4 linked regions of the Homo sapiens genome follow. The protein of the gene in region 1 purifies or fractionates together with the protein of each later gene. This does not show direct contact. Each region holds a gene or a part of one and is shown on either strand. Other genes may lie near its edges.

Region 1 (4,773 bases):
TTGAAACGTTTGGTCTGGCATATCTCAGGTTGTGTATGTACTAATATGGCTGTACATTATTGCTTTTACTCCCATTACTTTCTGTTTAATTCTGATGTATTTCAATCTACTAATTTCCTTTTATTATAACTAAAATACTAATTACCGGAAAATTATCAGTTGTTTGTCTTATTATTATGTAAAACTCACTCTGTAAAGTACTAATATTTATAGCCCCAAGTATATAAATTTTATGAACTATATTTCTAATATGCTAGCTGTATATGTTACTCTTTGTTTTACAAGACACAAGAATTCATGTTCTCTTGATGAAATATATTAATGTATTCTACAAAATACAGGTAGATTTTATACTAGGATGAACTTTATATTTTTCCTAAGGTTTAAGTGAAATAAACGTTTTATTGAATTAGTACTTTTGGGAAGGTTTTACCCCATTAGGGTTAAGTTTTTTTCTTCCATATTTTGTTTCCTGCCTCTCTAATGTTTCAAGCATCTCTAGTGACCACAGTGACTGGGGTTCAAAGTAGTAAGCTTTTGACAAAATGCTCTCTCATAGAACTTTTTTTTTAACTATATATTCACATAACTTCACGCTATACAACATTGGTATTCATAAAATCTACATTTATTTCCAAAACTAAACAAAAACAAGTCTAAAAATTATTTGAGAAAATACATCATCATAGTTCCCATGAGCACTTCATTTACCAGGATAAACTGTAGGGTAAAAATGATGAGTCTAGGCCAGGCACAGTGGCTCACACCTGTAATCCCAGAACTTTGGGAGGCCAAGGCACACGGATCGCCTGAGGTCGGGAGTTCAAGACCAGCCTGACCAACATGGAGAAACCCGGAATCTACTAAAAATACAAAATTAGCCAGGCATGGTTGCACCTGCCTGTAATCCCAGCTACTTGGCAGGCTCAGGCAGGAGAATCACTTGAACCTGGGAGATGGAGGTTGCGGTGAGCCAAAATAGCACTCCAGCCTGAGCAACAAGAACGAAATTCCATCTCAAAAAAAAAACAAAAGAAATGATAAGTCTAGGTCAGGGATCATATCCAAGATCGTCCTATCATAGGTGATGTTCCAGTTGCCTGTGAACATGGCTACATAATCATACAGATTGTCCAAAAGTTAAGGCTACATCTCCGGAATGATGGTTTGTCCTTTAAGGAAGGATAAGAGAAGACATGCATTCCCAGGAAGGTGTGAATACCCAAGAACTATTCTATGGAACCCCATGTAGTAAAGCGCTTCTCAGTAACTCTAAATTAGAGAAGCTATTTCAAACTAAAAATTCATCTCTAGAGATGTGGAAAGTTTAATCTTCAGTCTCCTGCTAGAAGGGTTGAGGATCTAGATACTCATGCAATTTGTATGGAGGACAGTGGAGAGAATGAAATACAGAATTTTACTATCTCCTCTCTCATGCATACAACTACCCTTGAGAACATTTTTTAAATTTTTGAAATCTTTATGAAAGTATAATTGGTATAAAAAGAACCGCATATATTTAATGTATAAAATTTCAAACACCCATGATATCTTCACCACAAACAAGGTAATGGACATATCTAATACCTCTCAAAGTTTCCTTGAGAACATTTTAAGTGAAAATGAAAAATTTAAGGTAATCAATAGTCTTTTTTTATTACAGGTCCTCTACCTTATTATATATAACATTGCTAAATAACCATTAAAAGTCATTTAGTCAGTAAGACAATGTGTTGTATTAAGAGACACTATGCCATGTAATTGTTCATCTGAACAGCCAAAATAATGACCTAAAGTTTCTTTGGAATCAAATAACCTACATTTAGTGTTAACTTTTTAAAGTTCCTGAAAATATATAACTCTCACTATGGAACCAAACTTTGGATTCTTTACTAATTATCAATATTAACATTCAGCAAAATAAAAATTCTTCAAGAACTTTCCAATTTTACCAGTTTTATACTTGCTACCAAATTCTTGATGTTCAGGTTGCCAGAATGGAACACTCAATCTAATTTGAACTTCAGTACTTCCTGAAAGCACTGATCTTAAGTAATCAGGGACATACACTAAAAAATTATTGATTTTTTTACCTGTAATTCAAGTTTAACTGAGTGTCCTGAATTTTTAGTCGCTAAATCTAGCAACCCTATTGAGGTTACTAGCATACATCACAAATTAATGAATCCAAAATGCGTACACCTTAGCCTCAGAAAGACAATGCAGGACCATGAAAGGGAATTGGCCCAATTTGCATCTTAGTAAACAGTAGCTCAGCCTAAATTAACCGTATGTGGAAAATTACAACCTGCTGAGTAGGTAAATGGGCATACAGTGGCCAGGCCAAGGATCGCCAAACACATTGTTTGTCAAGACTAATTAGGATTTAATGAAGATAGCTCCAGTCTTCATTTATCATTCCAGTCTCCATCACAAAACAGACTACAACAAAGAGGTAAAGAAAACTACATCAAAATCTAAGAAGCAGGTGTGGATGTCAAACTCCATCAGGTCAACTAGAAACTAATTGCATATTTAAACATGGCAGATAAAGTGCAGACTACTTTATTGTTCTTAGCAGTTGGAGAGTTTTCAGTGGGGATCTTAGGGAATGCATTCATTGGATTGGTAAACTGCATGGACTGGGTCAAGAAGAGGAAAATTGCCTCCATTGATTTAATCCTCACAAGTCTGGCCATATCCAGAATTTGTCTATTGTGCGTAATACTATTAGATTGTTTTATATTGGTGCTATATCCAGATGTCTATGCCACTGGTAAAGAAATGAGAATCATTGACTTCTTCTGGACACTAACCAATCATTTAAGTATCTGGTTTGCAACCTGCCTCAGCATTTACTATTTCTTCAAGATAGGTAATTTCTTTCACCCACTTTTCCTCTGGATGAAGTGGAGAATTGACAGGGTGATTTCCTGGATTCTACTGGGGTGCGTGGTTCTCTCTGTGTTTATTAGCCTTCCAGCCACTGAGAATTTGAACGCTGATTTCAGGTTTTGTGTGAAGGCAAAGAGGAAAACAAACTTAACTTGGAGTTGCAGAGTAAATAAAACTCAACATGCTTCTACCAAGTTATTTCTCAACCTGGCAACGCTGCTCCCCTTTTGTGTGTGCCTAATGTCCTTTTTCCTCTTGATCCTCTCCCTGCGGAGACATATCAGGCGAATGCAGCTCAGTGCCACAGGGTGCAGAGACCCCAGCACAGAAGCCCATGTGAGAGCCCTGAAAGCTGTCATTTCCTTCCTTCTCCTCTTTATTGCCTACTATTTGTCCTTTCTCATTGCCACCTCCAGCTACTTTATGCCAGAGACGGAATTAGCTGTGATTTTTGGTGAGTCCATAGCTCTAATCTACCCCTCAAGTCATTCATTTATCCTAATACTGGGGAACAATAAATTAAGACATGCATCTCTAAAGGTGATTTGGAAAGTAATGTCTATTCTAAAAGGAAGAAAATTCCAACAACATAAACAAATCTGAAGAGAAACTATGCTTTTCTAGGACAAACAAAGATAAGATGTTTCTAAATTAACTTCAGTTCTTGCATTAATGTTTTATGTGATTAATTACTCCTAAAACTTAATTAGTGTATCTGTAATTGTAATGTAGGGAATCTTATGTACAGCTGGCTGGATCTCTTTATCTCTGTCTCTGTTTCTGACTCTGTCTGTGTATCCCTGTTTCTCTCTTCTGTAACTCTTCCTTTCTTTAGAGTTGCTGTTTTTTAAAACATGTTTCAGAGCAAATAGAAATTAATATCCTAATATCAACTATCAAGAGTAGAGGGCATTTTCATAGTTCTAAACCGTGTTTCCAGATGCAAAGTTGTGTGACTAATTCAAAACAACTGTAACAGCATCTTGCTGTTATTTGCATCTTTATGAAAAGCAACTAGTTCCTTCTCATAGTCCGCGTTAGATGGTTCCTCTTGGATCATCCAACAAAGCTCTACTTTTGGGAAAGACTCAATAAAGTGACAGTTCTTAATAAATGCTGTGGAATTCTATGAATAATCTTATAATCACAGAAAAGGTATATATTATGGCTAAATATATTGTCACAGTAAGTTCAAAGATTATTTGAGAATTGCAGATCAATGAATGAAGGACAATCTATAAGTAAAAGTGAGAAAAATTATGTAGAAAATGTCTATAAAATAAGAAGCCTAAATTGAACTATTAATTATTTATTGAAGAAAATTTCTCCACAAAAGACGTATGTCCACGGACTGCACCAGGCAATGATTATCAAGATGCTGTGACAAGACATTCAATCAAAAGCTAATACATGGTTATGCTAAAATGTCAAAACTCTCAAAGGATATATTGCCTCAATGTAGATCATCTCTACATCCCAGAGAAATATTGTTTGGATTGTATATAAGACATCTTTTTTTAAAGGGTTCAATGATTCTATTTCAGTAATTTGTTGAACAACAGAACATCTGTAAGAATATAGAATACATTAACAAACACTATCAAGCAACCTGATCTGATATTTATGAAAGATTCCATAAAAGGAAGAGACAACACATTCTCTTTTCAAGCATATATTGAATATTCTCCAGACAATGCCATATGTCAGGCCACAAAAGGAAATATGTATCTGGGACATACCATCAAAAGCACATCATTCATATTGTGGCAAAGATATTTTAGGGTGATCAACCCTGTACTAACCAGCCTAGAGTAGCCAGGAACTTTGTGTACAAAAAAGAAAATATTTGTAAATAAAGAGAGAAAAAAAGTTTTCATG
Region 2 (5,279 bases), on another chromosome or scaffold:
TGTATATATACTTTACATATTGTTTTTAATTGTACTTTTTATCTATTAAATATGATGCCAGCCCTCTTAGTCATTAAAAAAATTGAATTCTGGGCACCTACATCAAAAATTCAACATTACTTTTTTAAATTGTACAAATGAGGATAGTCTATTTGTTTTTATAATTCTTTCCTCCCATCTTCTGGCATTATCAGATATAAGTTTATTGGAGTAATCTCCAATTTATAAAAAGGTTGGTTTGAGAATAATTCAAGTCAGCTGTCTGAAGCTCAGGGTGCATTTTGTTAGAAATGGTGGTCAAGCCCTCAATAGAGTTCTGCAAGATCTCTTTATCCCTACTAGTAGGTAACAAGAATATTGATGATAGAAAAAAACCTGCTGGGTGTGGTGGCTCACGCCTGTAATCTCAGCACTTTGGGAGGCCAAGGTGGGCGGATCCCTTGAGGCCAGGAGTTGAAGACCAGCCTGGTCAACATGGCAAAACCCTGTCTCTTCTCTTCTAAAAATACAAAAATTAGCTGGGCATGGTGGTGCACGCCTGTAGTCCCAGCTACCCACGAGGCTGAGGCAGGAGATTTCGCTTGAACCCAGGAGGTGGAGGTTGCAGTGAGCCAAGATCATGGCACTGCACTCCAGCCTGGGCAACACAGTGAAACTCTGTCTCAAGGAAAAAAAAAAGTTTCTTATTGCTTGGTATAGAACTAACTTGAAAAAATAGGAGGAAATGCATATATAAAGCAACACAAAGACAGATATATGATACGTATCCAATACTTGAAAGGTGATGGTGTTTTGATGTTATTTACAGTAAGTTTTAAGTTAATATATCTATCGGTACCTATTAAATACACTTTTAAAACAGCTTTATTGAGATTATTTATATACCATGTAATTCACTTATTTAAAGTGTACAATTCAGTGGGTTTTGATATAGTACTTTTTTTAATTATAAAATTTGCCATTTTAACATTTTTAAGTGCACAATTCATAAAAGGCATTAATTACACTCACAATACTGTGCAGCCATCACCAGTATTTTCAAAATATTTTCACCACCCCAATTAAGCAGCAACACCCCATTTCCTTCCTCCCCCTAACCCTTGGAAACCTCTAATCTACTTTCTGTCTTTATGAGTTTACCAATTCTAAGTACGTCATATGTGTGCAAGCATACAATATTTGTTATTTTATGTTGGGTTTATTTATTATAATGTTCTCACAGTTCATGCATATTACAGCATCTGTCAGAGCTTTACTCTTTTTTATGGCTGAATAATATTCTTTTTGTTTCTGATATTCTGATATTCTGTTTGGTTTGGTTTTGTTTCTCCATGTATCTGTTGATGGACACTTGGATTGTTTTCGCCTTTTAGCTGTTGTTAACAATGCTGCTATTAAAATTGATGTACATTGCTTCTTGCCCTTTTGACTAAGATCAAGTGTCTATCAGAGCCCCTGCTCTCAATTCCTTTAGATATATACATTGGAGTAGACTAGCAGGGTCGGTCATATGGTTATTCTATGTTTAGCTTTTTGAGGAACCACCAAACTGTTTTCACAGCAGCTGCACCTTTGTACATTCCCAACAGTGCACAAGAGTACAAATCTCTCCATATTTTCCCAAACCCTTGTTAATTTTATAGCCATGCTAGTAGATGTGGAGAGGTCTGTCACTGTGGTTTTGATATGCATTTTTCTAAATGATTACCATTATTGAGCATCTTTTCCTGTGCTTATTGACCATTTGTATATCTTCTTTAGAAAAATGTCTGTTCAAGTCTTTTGCCTATTTTTTAATTGGGTTTTTTGTTATTGAATTGTAGGAGCTCTTTATATATTCTGGACACTAAACGCCTATCAGATGACATGATTTGTAAATATTTTCTCCCATTCTATAGATTGGCTTTTCACTTTCTTAATAATGGCCTTGGCCAGGTGTGGTAGCTCATGCTTATAATCCCAGCACTTTGGGAGGCTGAAGTGGGAGGACTGCTTGAGGCCAGAAGTTCAAGACAACATAGTGATACCCCCATCTTTACAAAAAGTTTAAAAATTAGCCAGGCTTGGTGGCACCTATAGTTTCAGCTATTCAGGAGGCTGAGGCAAGAGGATCACTTGAACCCAGAAGGTTGAGGCTGCAGTGAGCCATGATCATTCCACTACACTGTAGCCTGGGTAGCAGAGCAAGACCCTGTCTCAAAAAAAAAAAAAAAAAAAAAGTCCTTAGATACATAAAGTTTTTAATTTTGATGAAGTCCAATTTATTTTTTCTTTTGTGAAAAATATGACCTGTGCTGTGGTGTCATATCTAAGAATCCATTGCAAAATTACATTTTTAGTTTATCTTGCTAGATATGTCACAATCCTTTTTCAAAGCATCTAGGAGAATTCTTGGTACATAAGAGACTCCTTCTTAAATCAATGTAAGAAAATATAGGTTGGGCACAGTGGCTCACACCTGTAATCCCAGCACTTTGGGAGGCCAAGGCGGGTGGATCACCTGAGATTAGGAGTTTGAGAACAGCCTGGCCAACATGGCAAAACCTTGTCTCTACTAAAAATATAAAAATTAGCCAAGCATGATGGCAGGCACCAGTAATCCCAGCTGCTCAGGAGGCTGAGGCAAGAGAATCGCTTGAACCTGGGAGGCAGAGGTTGCAGTGAGCTGAGATCTTATCACTGCACTCTTACCTGGGCAACAGAATGAGACTCCATCTCAAAAAAAAAAAAAGAAAAGAAAATATAAACCAATTGTTTTATCATCACACATGAACTGAATGCTACACAAATGTAGTGTGCTCAGAAATACCAGAAATCTATGGAAGTGAGACTGTTACAGAGGCCCATTGTAGATAGACCTGACCTTACAAACAGGTGTTCTAAGAGAGATGTCAGTCTGGAAGATGTAAAATGATCCATAATATTGGGTCGTTTGGAGGACAGATTGACAGGAGAGCCCGAGGCAGCTGTATCTTTGTGCACACTTATTATATAGCTGAAACAAGCATACTTAACTCAGTTGAACAGAAGTAAGCTATCACTCCCCTGATGAAGAGCCTACAGTGGCTCCCAATCACTCAGGGAATCAGAGTGAAGGCCAAGCTAAGAAATAAACTTAGCCTTGGCTTTCAAGTCATCTGTCTGCTTTCACCTATCCACATTTTGTGAATGGGTGGGTGCCTGGGTGGGTGGATGGATGGTCAGACATAGCAGTGTTAGGGAAAATGATTATAACAGATCAAATCTGCAGTGCAGATGTAGGCTTCATGAGCAATGACACAGTATTTATTGAACCAATGATGATTGAATACATTAGCAGATTAGGTAACAAAGTGTCCCTCTTGTCTCTTGGCCGAAAGGACCCCAGAGAGATGCCCAGGCAGCCCGAGAATTCATTCTGAAGATGTTCGTGGACCTGAACCCAGACAGTGACAAAATTATCTACTCCCACTTCACGTGCGCCACAGACACCGAGAATATCCGCTTTGTCTTTGCTGCCGTCAAGGACACCATCCTCCAGTTGAACCTGAAGGAGTACAATCTGGTCTAATTGTGCCTCCTAGACACCCGCCCTGCCCTTCCCTGGTGGGCTATTGAAGATACACAAGAGGGACTGTATTTCTGTGGAAAACAATTTGCATAATACTAATTTATTGCCGTCCTGGACTCTGTGTGAGCGTGTCCACAGAGTTTGTAGTAAATATTATGATTTTATTTAAACTATTCAGAGGAAAAACAGAGGATGCTGAAGTACAGTCCCAGCACATTTCCTCTCTATCTTTTTTTTAGGCAAAACCTTGTGACTCAGTGTATTTTAAATTCTCAGTCATGCACTCACAAAGATAAGACTTGTTTCTTTCTGTCTCTCTCTCTTTTTCTTTTCTATGGAGCAAAACAAAGCTGATTTCCCTTTTTTCTTCCCCCGCTAATTCATACCTCCCTCCTGATGTTTTTCCCAGGTTACAATGGCCTTTATCCTAGTTCCATTCTTGGTCAAGTTTTTCTCTCAAATGATACAGTCAGGACACATCGTTCGATTTAAGCCATCATCAGCTTAATTTAAGTTTGTAGTTTTTGCTGAAGGATTATATGTATTAATACTTACGGTTTTAAATGTGTTGCTTTGGATACACACATAGTTTCTTTTTTAATAGAATATACTGTCTTGTCTCACTTTGGACTGGGACAGTGGATGCCCATCTAAAAGTTAAGTGTCATTTCTTTTAGATGTTTACCTTCAGCCATAGCTTGATTGCTCAGAGAAATATGCAGAAGGCAGGATCAAAGACACACAGGAGTCCTTTCTTTTGAAATGCCACGTGCCATTGTCTTTCCTCCCTTCTTTGCTTCTTTTTCTTACCCTCTCTTTCAATTGCAGATGCCAAAAAAGATGCCAACAGACACTACATTACCCTAATGGCTGCTACCCAGAACCTTTTTATAGGTTGTTCTTAATTTTTTTGTTGTTGTTGTTCAAGCTTTTCCTTTCTTTTTTTTCTTGGTGTTTGGGCCACGATTTTAAAATGACTTTTATTATGGGTATGTGTTGCCAAAGCTGGCTTTTTGTCAAATAAAATGAATACGAACTTAAAAAATAAAAGCTGGTATCTTAAAATGTAAGAGAGTAAGACTGTGAAGCCTAAAATGACTGGCTGAGAATGAACCAGAAATGCCATTTGCCAAACAGTTGTAACTAGAAATTTGATTCTCACGGTCCATTCTTTTCTTTGTCCTTAAGATGACATTGTTAGTGTTCACGTCCCATGTTCAGTGTCCAAACCGGCAATGTAAAAAGTATCCTGTGTGGTTTAACAGGAAATCTGTTTATGTCTCTTTATTTGAAACCAGTTTTACTCTCAGTGGTTCTTTAAGTTCAATGAAGTCTGCCAGGAACATTGGTTGGTAGTATTATTCCGACACCTTTAATTTCCAAAATCTGAAGTTCCTGCTAGTTTACCACCTTCATGATCTTCTTGAACTGGTAACTGATTAGGTTGAACTTATGGAAGATTTGTGGACTTAACTCAAAAGTAACCTCTCAGTGTTCTATAGAACATGTATTTGTGTAACTGAACCTACCAGGAGAAATGTTTGGAATTCTATATGTGCAATTTTTCAACAAATGCAAAAAAAATACAGCACATGTATTGACAAGCTTCTGTCAAGCAGCTTGAGTTGAAATTTGATTTAAGAAAATAAATCATGATTGTTCAAAGCTGCTGGGACGTTAGAATTAGGCCATGATACTGGTCTCATTTTAACTACAGTGGTATTTGGCA
Region 3 (5,279 bases), on another chromosome or scaffold:
GGTTAGAAAACGGGCAAAGGACCTGAACAGAAATTTTCCCAAAGATATACAAATGGCCAACAGGTACATGAAAAGGTGTTCAATGTCACTGATCATCAGGGAAATGCAAATTAAAACCAAAATGAAATATCACCTCCCACCTGTAATGATGCCTTATTATCATCGGAGACAAGAAATAACAAAAGTTGGCAAAGATGTGAAGAAAAGGGAACCCTTGACCATTGTTGGTAATTTACTACTGTCATTATGGAAAACAGTATAGAGGTTGCTCAAAAAACTAAAAATAGAATTAGCATATGATCTAGCAATCCCACTTCTGTGTACATATCTGAAGGAAATGAAATCAGTATCTCAGAGATATCTCTACTCCCATGTTCAAGCAGCTATATGGAAACAACTTAAGTGTCTACTAAGGGATGAATGGGGGATGAGCCTGGCTGGGCGTGGTGGTTCACGCCTATAATCCCATCCACTCCGGGTGGATCACTTGAGATCAGGAGTCTGAGACCAGCCTGGCCAACATGGTGAAACCCCGTCTCTACAAAAACAGAGTAATTAGCCGGACATGATGGCAGGTGCCTATAATGTCAGCTACTCAAGAGGCTGAGGCAGGAGAATCGCTTGAAGCCAGGAGGTGGAGATTGCAGTGAGCCTAGATGGTGCCACTGCACTCCAACCTGGACAACAGAGTGAGACTCCATCTCAAAATAAATAAAATAAAATAAAATCCTACCATCTGCAACATGAATGAACCTGGAAGGCATTATGCCAAGTGAAATATGCCAGAGAAAGACAAATACAACTGGCCCTTGAACAACACAGGTTTGAACTGCACATGTCCATTTACACCCAGATTTTTCTCAACCAAATGCAGATCACATTTGCAGATGTGAAACCCACATATTTGGAGGGCTGAATTTTGGATGCACAGGTTCTGCAGAGTCAACTTCTGGACTTCAGTATGTGCGAATTTTGGTATACATGGGGGTCCTAGAACCAGTCCTCCGAGCATACCAAGGGACAACTATACTGTATGGTAACCAAACTCACAGAAACAGAGAGTAGAATGCTGGTTGCCAGGGATAAGGGGGTAGGTGAAATGGGAAGATGTTGGTTAAAGAACACAAACTTTCTGAGGATCTAATGTACAGCACATGGTGACTATAGCTAATAATACTGGACCTTATACCTGAAATTTGCGAAAGAGCATCTTTTAAGAGTTCTCACCAAAAAAAAAAAAAAAAAAAAAAAAGAAAGTTACTACATAAGGTGATGGATTTACTGAGATTAAAGATTATTCCCAGTTGAAATGTGGGCTGGGCTCAGTGGCTCATGCCTGTAAGCCCAGCACTTTGGGAGGCCAAGGCAGGCAGATCACTTGAGGTCAGAAGTTTGAGACTAGACTGGCCAACATAGCGAAACTGCGTCTCTACTAAAAATACAAAAACTACTGAGTGTGGTGGCGTGTGCCTATAATTCCAGCTACTCGGGGGGCTGAGGCTTGAACCCAGGAGGTGGAGGTTGCAGTGAACTGCCATCTTGCCACTGCACTCCAGCAGTGATAGGTGATGGAATGAGACACTGTCTCAAAAAAATAAAAAAAAGGAAAAAAGAAATGTGTTGTTTTCAGAGAAGCATTTACAAAACACGCCCCTACATCTTCTCCCTTAATCATTTAAAACAAAACACAAGTTACAAAAATAAAGATTTTGATTTTGTTTTATAAGGTACAAAATGTAGCAGTTCCAACACTGGAATTTGGAAGCTGTTTTTGTCTTTGATACCACAACATGGATTAAATTTCAAATTAATGTATATAATCCCATAGAGCCCAACATAATTAAGTCATTTAAAAGTCTGATAAAACATGCTTTTTAATTTTAAACATAATTAATAATTTAGTCATTTTTCAGTGTAAAAAAGTCAAAATTTATCTTGATATATTATTAATATTAATAACTTTAAAATACAACTTTTAACAATGTACTGATCCATAATAAAGTATTTGTTACTTCAAGTTTCTTTTTCATCATATATCATACAAAATGACGAAAACTTTTTAAATTTCCTGAAGGGGTTCAAGAGATTCTTCATTATTGTGAAAGACACTCACAGGTAAAAACATAATCTGTGATGTATGATTCCACTTATATATGATGCCTAGAGTAGTCAAATTCATAGAGACAGAAATAGAATGGTGCGGCAGGGGGCAGTGGCTCATGCCTGTAATCCCAGCACTTTCGGAGGCAAAGGTGAGCAGATCACTTGAGCTCAGGAGTTCAAGACCAGCCTGGCCAACATGGTGAAACCCTGTCTCTACTAAAAACCCTGTCTCTACTAAAAATACAAAAAAATTAACCAGGCATGGTGGCAGGCACCTATAATCCCAGCTACTCAGGAGGCTGAGGCAGGAGAATCGCTTGAACCTGGGAGGTGGAGGTTGCAGTGAGCCAAGATCGTGTCACTGCACTCCAGCCTGGATGACAGAGTGAGACTCCACCTCAAAAAAACAAACAAGGGCTGGACGCGGTGGCTCACGCCTGTAATCCCAGCACTTTGGGAGGCTGAGGTGGGTGGATCACGAGGTCAGGAGATCGAGACCATCCTGTCTAACATGGTGAAATCCCATCTCTACTAAAAAGTACAAAAAATTAGCCGGGCGTGGCAGCGGGCGCCTGTAGTCCCAGCTACTCGGGAGGCTGAGGCAGGAGAATGGCGTGAACCCGGGAGGTGGAGCTTACAGTGAGCCGAGATCGCGCCACTGCTCTCCAGCCTGGGTGACAGAGTGAGACTCCGTCTCAAAAAAAACAAAACAAAAAAAAAAAAAAAGAGAAAGACAATGGTGGTTGCCAGGATGTTGGGGAATGGGATAATGGTGAATTAGTACTTGATGGGTAGACAGTTTCAGTTTGGGAAGATGCAAAGGTTCTGGAGATGGATAGCGGTATAATCGCAGAACGGTTAAGAATGTACTTAATGACACACAACTATACACTTAAAAAATGGTTAAGATGGTAAATGTTATGCCTATTTTATCACTATTTTAAAAAATTATCTAGGCCAACCCCTCCTCATTTTACAAACAACGTCCAAGTTCACATAGCTACTCAATTACAAAGACAATTTAATTCTATTTCTACTAATAACACTGCCCCTAAATTATTTCTAGGCTATAATAAAAAAAGACACTGCTAGAGACAAAGTGGCTAAAAGGAGGTAAATGACAAAAAAAAATTGTACAGAAAAAATAATTTACAATTACAATTAAAATGGGCAGTCAGATATGCTTTTTTCTTTTTTTTTTTTTTTTTTTTTTTGAGACAGAGTCTTGCTCTGTTACCCAGGCTGGAGTTCAGTGGCACAATCCTGGCTCACTGCAGCCTCCGCCTCCTGAGCTCAAGCGATTCTCCTGTCTCAGCCTCCCGAGAAGCTGGGACTACGGCCACGCGCCACCACGCCCAGCTAGTTTTTGTATTTTTAGTACATACGGGGTTTCACCATGTTGGTCAGGCTGGTCTCAAACTCCTGACCTCAGGTGATCCACCTATCTCGGCCTCCCAAAGTGCTGGGATTACAGGTGTGAGCCACCACGCCCATCTAAGATATGCTCTTAATACATGGACTTTTACATTTGACTTATTCCTGCATCCATTCTATGTCCCTTCTTGTTTTCCTGTTCTTACCTTTTTCTAACGTCTTTTTAATCTATTTTATATGTCTTTGTAATCCTTAAGTACTCTTTAAAAGAAATGGGAAATAAATAAAATGTACGGTCATACTTGTAACTGACTTACAAAAGTACACAGAAGACTGCAGAATATTTTTCAACAAAATAATTAAAGTTAAAATGTGATCTTTTAGAAGGATAATTCCCCAATGGCATAAAAGAGGCTTTGTTATAATTTAAAGGTAAACAAAATCATGTAGGCATGCCTACTTCTTTTAAGCACAGAGTTTTTTGTACAAATACCTTTTTCAAAACAATTACCTTGGAAACCACTTGGCATGTTCTACCCATGGATCATCTCCAGATTCCCAACACCTCAAGCCACCATCACAACAAAAGCATTTGACATCATCATTGCGACCTTCAGGAAAAAAAAGACTAAATATTGAAAACACGTATGTTCTAATATGTAAATTAAAATAAAATGATAAAATGTATAGTTATTTGCTTCTTACCCACATAATAAAAACCAGCACTTGCAAGCTGCTCAGGCTGAACTGGAACACTAGATGGCCAGTACATAAATGTTCTCATTCGAGCTGCATGTGTCTGCATGCTCAGATTTGAAATGCTAAACCTCAGAGTTTCTAGAGAATTTTCCAAAAATGGACAGTTGGGAAAATGCCTCCGGTGTTCTGACATAGCATCATCCTTTGGTTCCCAGTTACTGAGCTTCCCACCACAGGCAAAGCAGGCTACCCTATCTCCAGGTCCTATATAATAAAAACCAGCTCTTGCCAATTCTGATGGTGACAAAAAAGTTAATGGCCACATATGGTAGGTAAGAAATCTGGCTTCTTCAGTACTCATTGCATAACTGTAGGGGTTAGTCCTCGATGAAGAGATGTCTTCAACTGCTCTAGAATTAAGAGGGTTTGGAGAAAGGCTGGAGTAAGAACCACTGAACAAGCTACTATGTTCCAAGGTGGGAGATAATGAATGTGCAAAACTGTTTCTCATTGGAGACGTATTCTTAGAGGTGGATCCCAGACTAGCTGAAACCAGATTCTGAATAAAGCTACAGCTAGGATATAGCTGTTTATGCTTTTGAATAGGACTGTCTCCTAGTTTCCAGTTATCCAGCATCAGGCCACAACAGAAGCATTTGACCTTGTCATTCACACCAGTATAATAAAAACCAGCACGAGCAAGACTCCTTTCTGAGACAGGCACCCCGGCGGGGAAAGTTGAATATGTAGACATTCTGTAGAGTTCACAGGAAAAGTCATACTTCATTTTTTGTTTGTTGCTGTTTGTCCAATCTGACAAGATCGTGCTATCTTCCATTATACTCTTAATGTTTTGATACGAGGGACCTGGGAAAAGTCTTTGGGAGGCAGTTTTGTGCATGAGTAGGTGACAGTACTGTTTGATAGCTAAAACATTCACATGAAATTTCTTCACATGAACTAAGATTTTTACCACAAAAAGAAATCAATGATAGACTCTTATGTAGAATTTACTACACTTTCTTTACTGGATTTATCTCAGTTTATATTCAGGTAGGATGAGTATCTCTCTGAATTACCAAGATACTACTTAGAACACAACT
Region 4 (5,279 bases), on another chromosome or scaffold:
GAGGCCAAGATTGTCCACTATGTACCCTGACTCTGAATGAATGAATTAAAAAGCAAATTGCACTCCAGCCTGGGCAACAAGAGTGAAACTCCATCTCAAAAAAAAAAAAAAAAAAAAAAAAGACATTGTCAAAGACTGGGCTGAGGAACAGGTGAGGTGGGTGAAGGAGTAGATTGATCACATGCCTGGGTGAGCGGGTAGGAGGAGGGAGGTAGAGGAGCGGGTGTCAGGGAGAGAAGGCCACTGGGAAGGACAGCCCCACCGTCCTGACAGACAGGGTCCCTTGCAGGTCATCGCCACCATCCCGACCAGCAGACTCAAGTTCCTCAAGGAGGCAGGCAGGCTCACACAGAAGGAGGAGATCCCGGAGGAGGAGCTCAACGAGGACGTGGAGGAGATCGACCACGCGGAGCGGGAGCTGCGGCGGGGCCAGATCCTGTGGTTCCGAGGCCTGAATCGGATCCAGACACAGGTACAGGAGGCTCTTGGGGGCTGGGCCCAGGCCTGGCCGGGGCGGGCCAGGGGATGGAGGTGAGTGTGCTTGTGCTGCCCCCCAGGGCCCAGCTCTGGTGCTGAGGGAGGGTGGCTACAGAGGGGTCCCGGCCAGCTCTCACCAGCCACTTGCACACCCACTCCTGTGGCTGCTAAGGAACAGCACGGCCTCCTCAGAGAGGTCCCATTGTGCCCTCTCAGGGCAGCACGGGGAAGTGGTAGGGGTCACACCCACCATGGTCTCCAGGGGGATTTCCCTGAGAGGGTGGGGAAGGGTGGCTCTGAGGGCAGAGGTGAGTGAGGGGACTGTCGCTCAGGGCTGGGGGCACCCACCCACAGGGGCCGTGTGAGGCTGGACAGAAGCTGCAGGCCAGGTCGCCCAGGGTCCCCCAGGGCGTGGTGGTCAGGGGGTCCGCCGCCTCCACGGGGGCTTCAGTTGCTCTCCCCAGCTTCCCCTAGGGGGTGGAGAGGCTCTGGGGAGCAAAGGTCAGTCATCCTCAAGCACACACAGACACACATGCACACACCAAGCACACCAGGGGAGCACAGGTGCAGGGCGTAGCCAGCCAGAAGCAGGTTTCTTCCCCAGAGCAGAGAGAGCATGGCTGCCACGTGGCACACGACACACCTGCGCGCCTCCCCCGACCCCCCCACACACATACCACATGCTCTCACATGGTCCCCTTATGCCTGGAGCAGGTGTTGTAGCTCACAAGTGCTGTCACAGCCCTGCGAGGGGAGGGTCAGAAGGGACTCTGTGGGTCTCTTGCCCAGACCATCTGGGGAGCTGGAGTGGGAGCTCCTCCATGCCCCAGCATGCTTGGGCGAAGTGCAGTGTAGAAGCAGCCACCTGGCCACCATCCTGCCAGCTGTGGCCCAGCACCTCATTTCCATCCGATGTAGCAGAGAGCTCACCTGGGTCACCTCCCACCCCTCTGTACCCTGTCCCAAACCTCACCTCATGTGACCTTCACAGCCCTGGGAGGTAGATGTGACTCCCCCAGTTTTAGAGGTTACCAAGGTCCAGGAGATGGCCCCTTCTACTGAGCTGGCACAGCTGGGGTGGGGACTGGAAGCCGGTTTCAGACCCGGAGGTGCCTGACACGGGCCTGGGCTCACCCTCCCTGGTTAGGGCCCCGCAGCCACCCCTCCCAGCCTGCCCCCACCTCCTGGGAGGTCCAGGACAACTCAGTGAATATGTCCCTGGTGCTGTCACTGCCCTGGCGGCAAAGCCACGCAGGGGTCTCCAGATTACGGGAGGAAGCAAGGACTGCGATTTCTTGAGTGGGCAGGGGCGCCTGTCTTGCCTGCCTCTTGCGGAATGCTAACACGGGTCAGGTGCTTTGCCACTTACAGATAACCCTGCCAGGCAGGTGGCATTGACCCTTCTTAAGAACAAGAAACTCGACTCAGAGAGGTGGCTTGCCCAAGGTCAGCTAGCTAGTAAGTGACAGAGCTGGAATTTAGGCCAAGCTCTGTCCACCTCAGGACCCCCACCACACCCTCTACCTCCACGCCTGTACCTGAGGGAGGCTGAACACTGCTCTCTTCCCTCCAGATACCATGTTTAATCACTGCCTCCCCCACTGGCCAGCCCACTGGCCCCTGAGCCACTAGCACAGGACAAAGGCCGGACCCCCTGTGTCCTCCCGGGGACCCTGGGGCCTGCAGGTGGGCCCAGAGCTGAGCAGACGTTTTTCAGAGCCTTGGAGTGTGTCTGGTATTTTTGTTTTGATTTAAGTGACATTGTCGTTGTTGCCGTGGCTGCGGCTGTTCTTGTGACGTTGCCCTGTCAGTCATGTAGCCGTTGTGCTCGTTCTTCTCGCAACTTGTCTCGTTCTCTCCTCCGTTGCAGATTGAAGTAGTCAATACTTTCAAGAGCGGGGCCTCCTTTCAGGGGGCCCTGCGGAGACAGTCCTCGGTCACCAGCCAGAGCCAGGATGTAGCCAATCTCTCTAGCCCTAGTCGCGTGTCGTTGTCCAATGCTCTTTCCTCTCCGACCAGCCTTCCTCCTGCTGCAGCCGGGCGTGAGTGTGACTCCTTACTGCCTCCGGCTGGCACTGCCCACGCCAGCTCCCAGGCGGGCAGGGGCTGGGGCACCAGAGGACATGGGGGGCAGCCGGTCACAATCAGGCCCAGGGGGATGAAGGGTCCCAGCCACCGAAGAGGGTCCCGTTGGTCAGGAGAGCGTAGCCAGTCATGCGGTGGCAGTCACTCAGTGGACCAGGGTCAGTCAGAGGGTCATTAGGGTCCCAAGTGGCCAAAAAGTCTGGTTCAGTCAAGGGGTCACCCTTGGTCAAGAGGACATCAGTGACCAAATGGTCCCAACCCACCACAGGGTCCCGGCAGCCAGAGGGGGACAGACATGGAGGGGACACAGAGTGTCCCACTGGCCTAGGGTCATATGTGGTCAGGAAAAGCCTGGACCACCAAGGCAAGGGTTGGAGTTGGACAAGAGGTCCCAGTCTTGCAGTCAAAGTCAGCAGAAGGGTCACTGTGGGTCAAGGGGAGCAAGCCCCTTAGGGTCCCAGTCAGTCACATTGGGATCCACCCAGGAGAGGGTCACGTCAACCAGACTTTCCCAGTTGGTCAGGGGGCACCCACAGTAATGAGGGTCATGGTCAAGGGGGACAGTTGAGCCAAGAGGTCACTGCAGGTCAGAGGTCATAGTCAGCCAGGGATCCCCAGGCCACCTAGGAGCTCACAGCCTAGACGCTGCACCCCAGCAGTTCAGAGTCTCTGCCCGCTTCCTGTCACTCCTCCCCTTGCACTTTTGACTGCATCAGCTGCCCTGCAGACACCTTTCCCTGTGGCTGAGCTTGGAACTTGCTGAAGTTCTAAGCCCTTCCTGGAAAGGACAAGGTCCCTGGCCCATTCAGCTTGACCCCTGGTAGAAAATGGTGGGTCGAGCCTCACATCTTGCCTGGGTGCCAGCAGGCCCAGAGGGACCTGATATGCCCTTCAGCATCCTGCCCTCCTTTATCTGAGAGATAGCCTGGGACTGTGGCCCCTCCTTCATCTCCCTCCTGCCAAGCTCATCTCCTCATGCCACCACTTCTGATCTAGATCACTCATTGCTGGCTTTGTCTAGCTCTTTCCCGGACCCATGGCTTCGGGCCCCATAGGGAACAAGTCTGTCTTTCCTCCCATCGCCCTGCTATGTTTCCAGTCAGGCGCTTCTGATCTGCAGGGGAGCCCCTGGTTCTGGTCTTCTCCAATTGGCATAGTGTCAGTCTTAGCCTCCAGCTTCTTTGATGAGAAGTAGACTCCAGCTCACCCCTTGAAACTTTATAAAGGGCCTCTACCCCCATCCAAAACCAGAACACCCACAACACAACCCCTGCAGCCAAGCAGGTAACCCGGTGTGCTGGTGGGAGCGCCTCCCTCAGTGCCTCCAGTAGGAGGCGCGGGCCACAGGGAGCCTGTTGATGGCAAATGTCCACGACCCATAGCGGCAGGACAGAAGCAGAAAGCAGGGAAGGAGCCTCTCAGTGCTCATTCGTCAGCACAGAAACGCAGTGCTGGGGAGGACCGGGGAGCCAAGATGAAATGGAGATGCATTTCAGCAGATGGTGGCTGAGTCACATTTCCATGAGATACCGTCACTAGGCAGTCACTGCCAGGATTTCTCGGGGAAGGCAACACCGGTCCCATCCTCCTCCCCTTTAGACCAGAGAGCTCTCACCTTAGCAGCAGCCTAGCCAGCTGACCTCCCAGCTCCTTTCTGCACCAACTCAGCTCTGGCCTTGCTCAGCACCCCCACCTATCCTGAGGTGCGGTAACCAAGTGTCCCGGCAGGGAGAGCTACATGGGGAAGAATCCACTTCTGTTCTGCCACCCCTCCCGATGACTCCTGCGGCCCTCCGGCTGGGGCTGCCTGCTAGCAGTCTGGCTTCTGGGTGAAGGCCCAGTTCTTTGTCCATCCCAGTTGAGCCTCTTTCTTGAAGGGCAGCACTTCACCCTGGCCACGACGGAGCACACCTGACATCGCTGGGCAGGCCCACTGCCTTTGGAAGTCGTCCCCGAGTCAGCCCCTCATCTTAGCTTTCACAGCCTGGAAGCTAGAGCTGTCCGCTCAAACCTCAGCCACTTCTTTCTCAGCTTTTCTTCTGCCTCATTTGCAAAGCCATTCAATAGGGCCCGTCCGGGAACAACACTTCTTTGCAGAAATGCCCTTTTCTTCATTTCTGCAGAAATGCTTAGACAGGAATGTGTCTACACTGACCTCCTTCGAGGCCAGATCAGTCCCCTGTAGCCCGTGGTTACCCCAACTTTGGAACAGTCTTGGAAAAGAAGCCCAGGCAGAGGCTCAGCCAAAGCCAACTTGACAGTCCTTGCCCTGACCCCTCATTCTCTCAGGGGACCCGGCAGGGTTGGCCAGGGCCTCCCCACCCTGCTCACCATCTTGCCTCTCCCTCTTCATGCCTCCTGGAGAATCTCGCATTCCCCCTCTGTGACAGAATCCAGCCTGTAATTCTGGGTGCCTCCTGAGACCCTTCCTGAGCCTATAGTCTTAAAAAGAGCCTGACCAAACCCCTGCCTGAGGGCACTGGTTCCCAGACAGGATCACAGCCTCTGTGGTTTCAGTACACACATTTGGACAACACAGCCTCGTGCCTCCTTTGCTTGAGTAGTGTCTACAACAGTGCTGCCTCCTCTGGTCTCCAAGGACTCTGAGGACCCTCTAAACACCAGCCAAGGTCCCTGCAGAAGCCAGTGTGCTTTCCTCCCACAGGGAGGTTTAAACAGGTGGCCAGGAAGTGACAGAAGGGCCCCAATTTGATGGG

What was found. Proteins that work in one complex are often made in the same cells at the same time.
Region 2: the proteins of TAS2R7 (region 1) and GNAQ purify together in Homo sapiens (affinity purification with mass spectrometry; 2 studies listed by BioGRID and IntAct, with this or other methods). This does not show direct contact.
Region 3: the proteins of TAS2R7 (region 1) and BIRC2 purify together in Homo sapiens (affinity purification with mass spectrometry; 3 studies listed by BioGRID and IntAct, with this or other methods). This does not show direct contact.
Region 4: the proteins of TAS2R7 (region 1) and ATP2B2 purify together in Homo sapiens (affinity purification with mass spectrometry, with the first as the bait; one large-scale study listed by BioGRID). This does not show direct contact.

The regions. Positions count from the first base shown.
Region 1 is NC_000012.12:10,800,339-10,805,111, reverse strand, and holds TAS2R7 (taste receptor type 2 member 7), read left to right. Parts: upstream 1-2,484; 5' UTR 2,485-2,541; coding exon 2,542-3,498; 3' UTR 3,499-3,580; downstream 3,581-4,773.
Region 2 is NC_000009.12:77,719,594-77,724,872, reverse strand, and holds part of GNAQ (guanine nucleotide-binding protein G(q) subunit alpha), read left to right. Parts: intron 1-3,359; coding exon 3,360-3,550; 3' UTR 3,551-5,279.
Region 3 is NC_000011.10:102,349,653-102,354,931, reverse strand, and holds part of BIRC2 (baculoviral IAP repeat-containing protein 2), read right to left. Parts: 5' UTR 5,078-5,279; coding exon 4,183-5,077; intron 4,089-4,182; coding exon 3,989-4,088; intron 1-3,988. UniProt on the Homo sapiens protein: Multi-functional protein which regulates not only caspases and apoptosis, but also modulates inflammatory signaling and immunity, mitogenic kinase signaling, and cell proliferation, as well as cell invasion and metastasis.
Region 4 is NC_000003.12:10,333,369-10,338,647, reverse strand, and holds part of ATP2B2 (plasma membrane calcium-transporting ATPase 2), read left to right. Parts: intron 1-289; coding exon 290-472; intron 473-2,347; coding exon of another isoform or gene 2,348-2,519; intron 2,520-5,279. UniProt on the Homo sapiens protein: ATP-driven Ca(2+) ion pump involved in the maintenance of basal intracellular Ca(2+) levels in specialized cells of cerebellar circuit and vestibular and cochlear systems.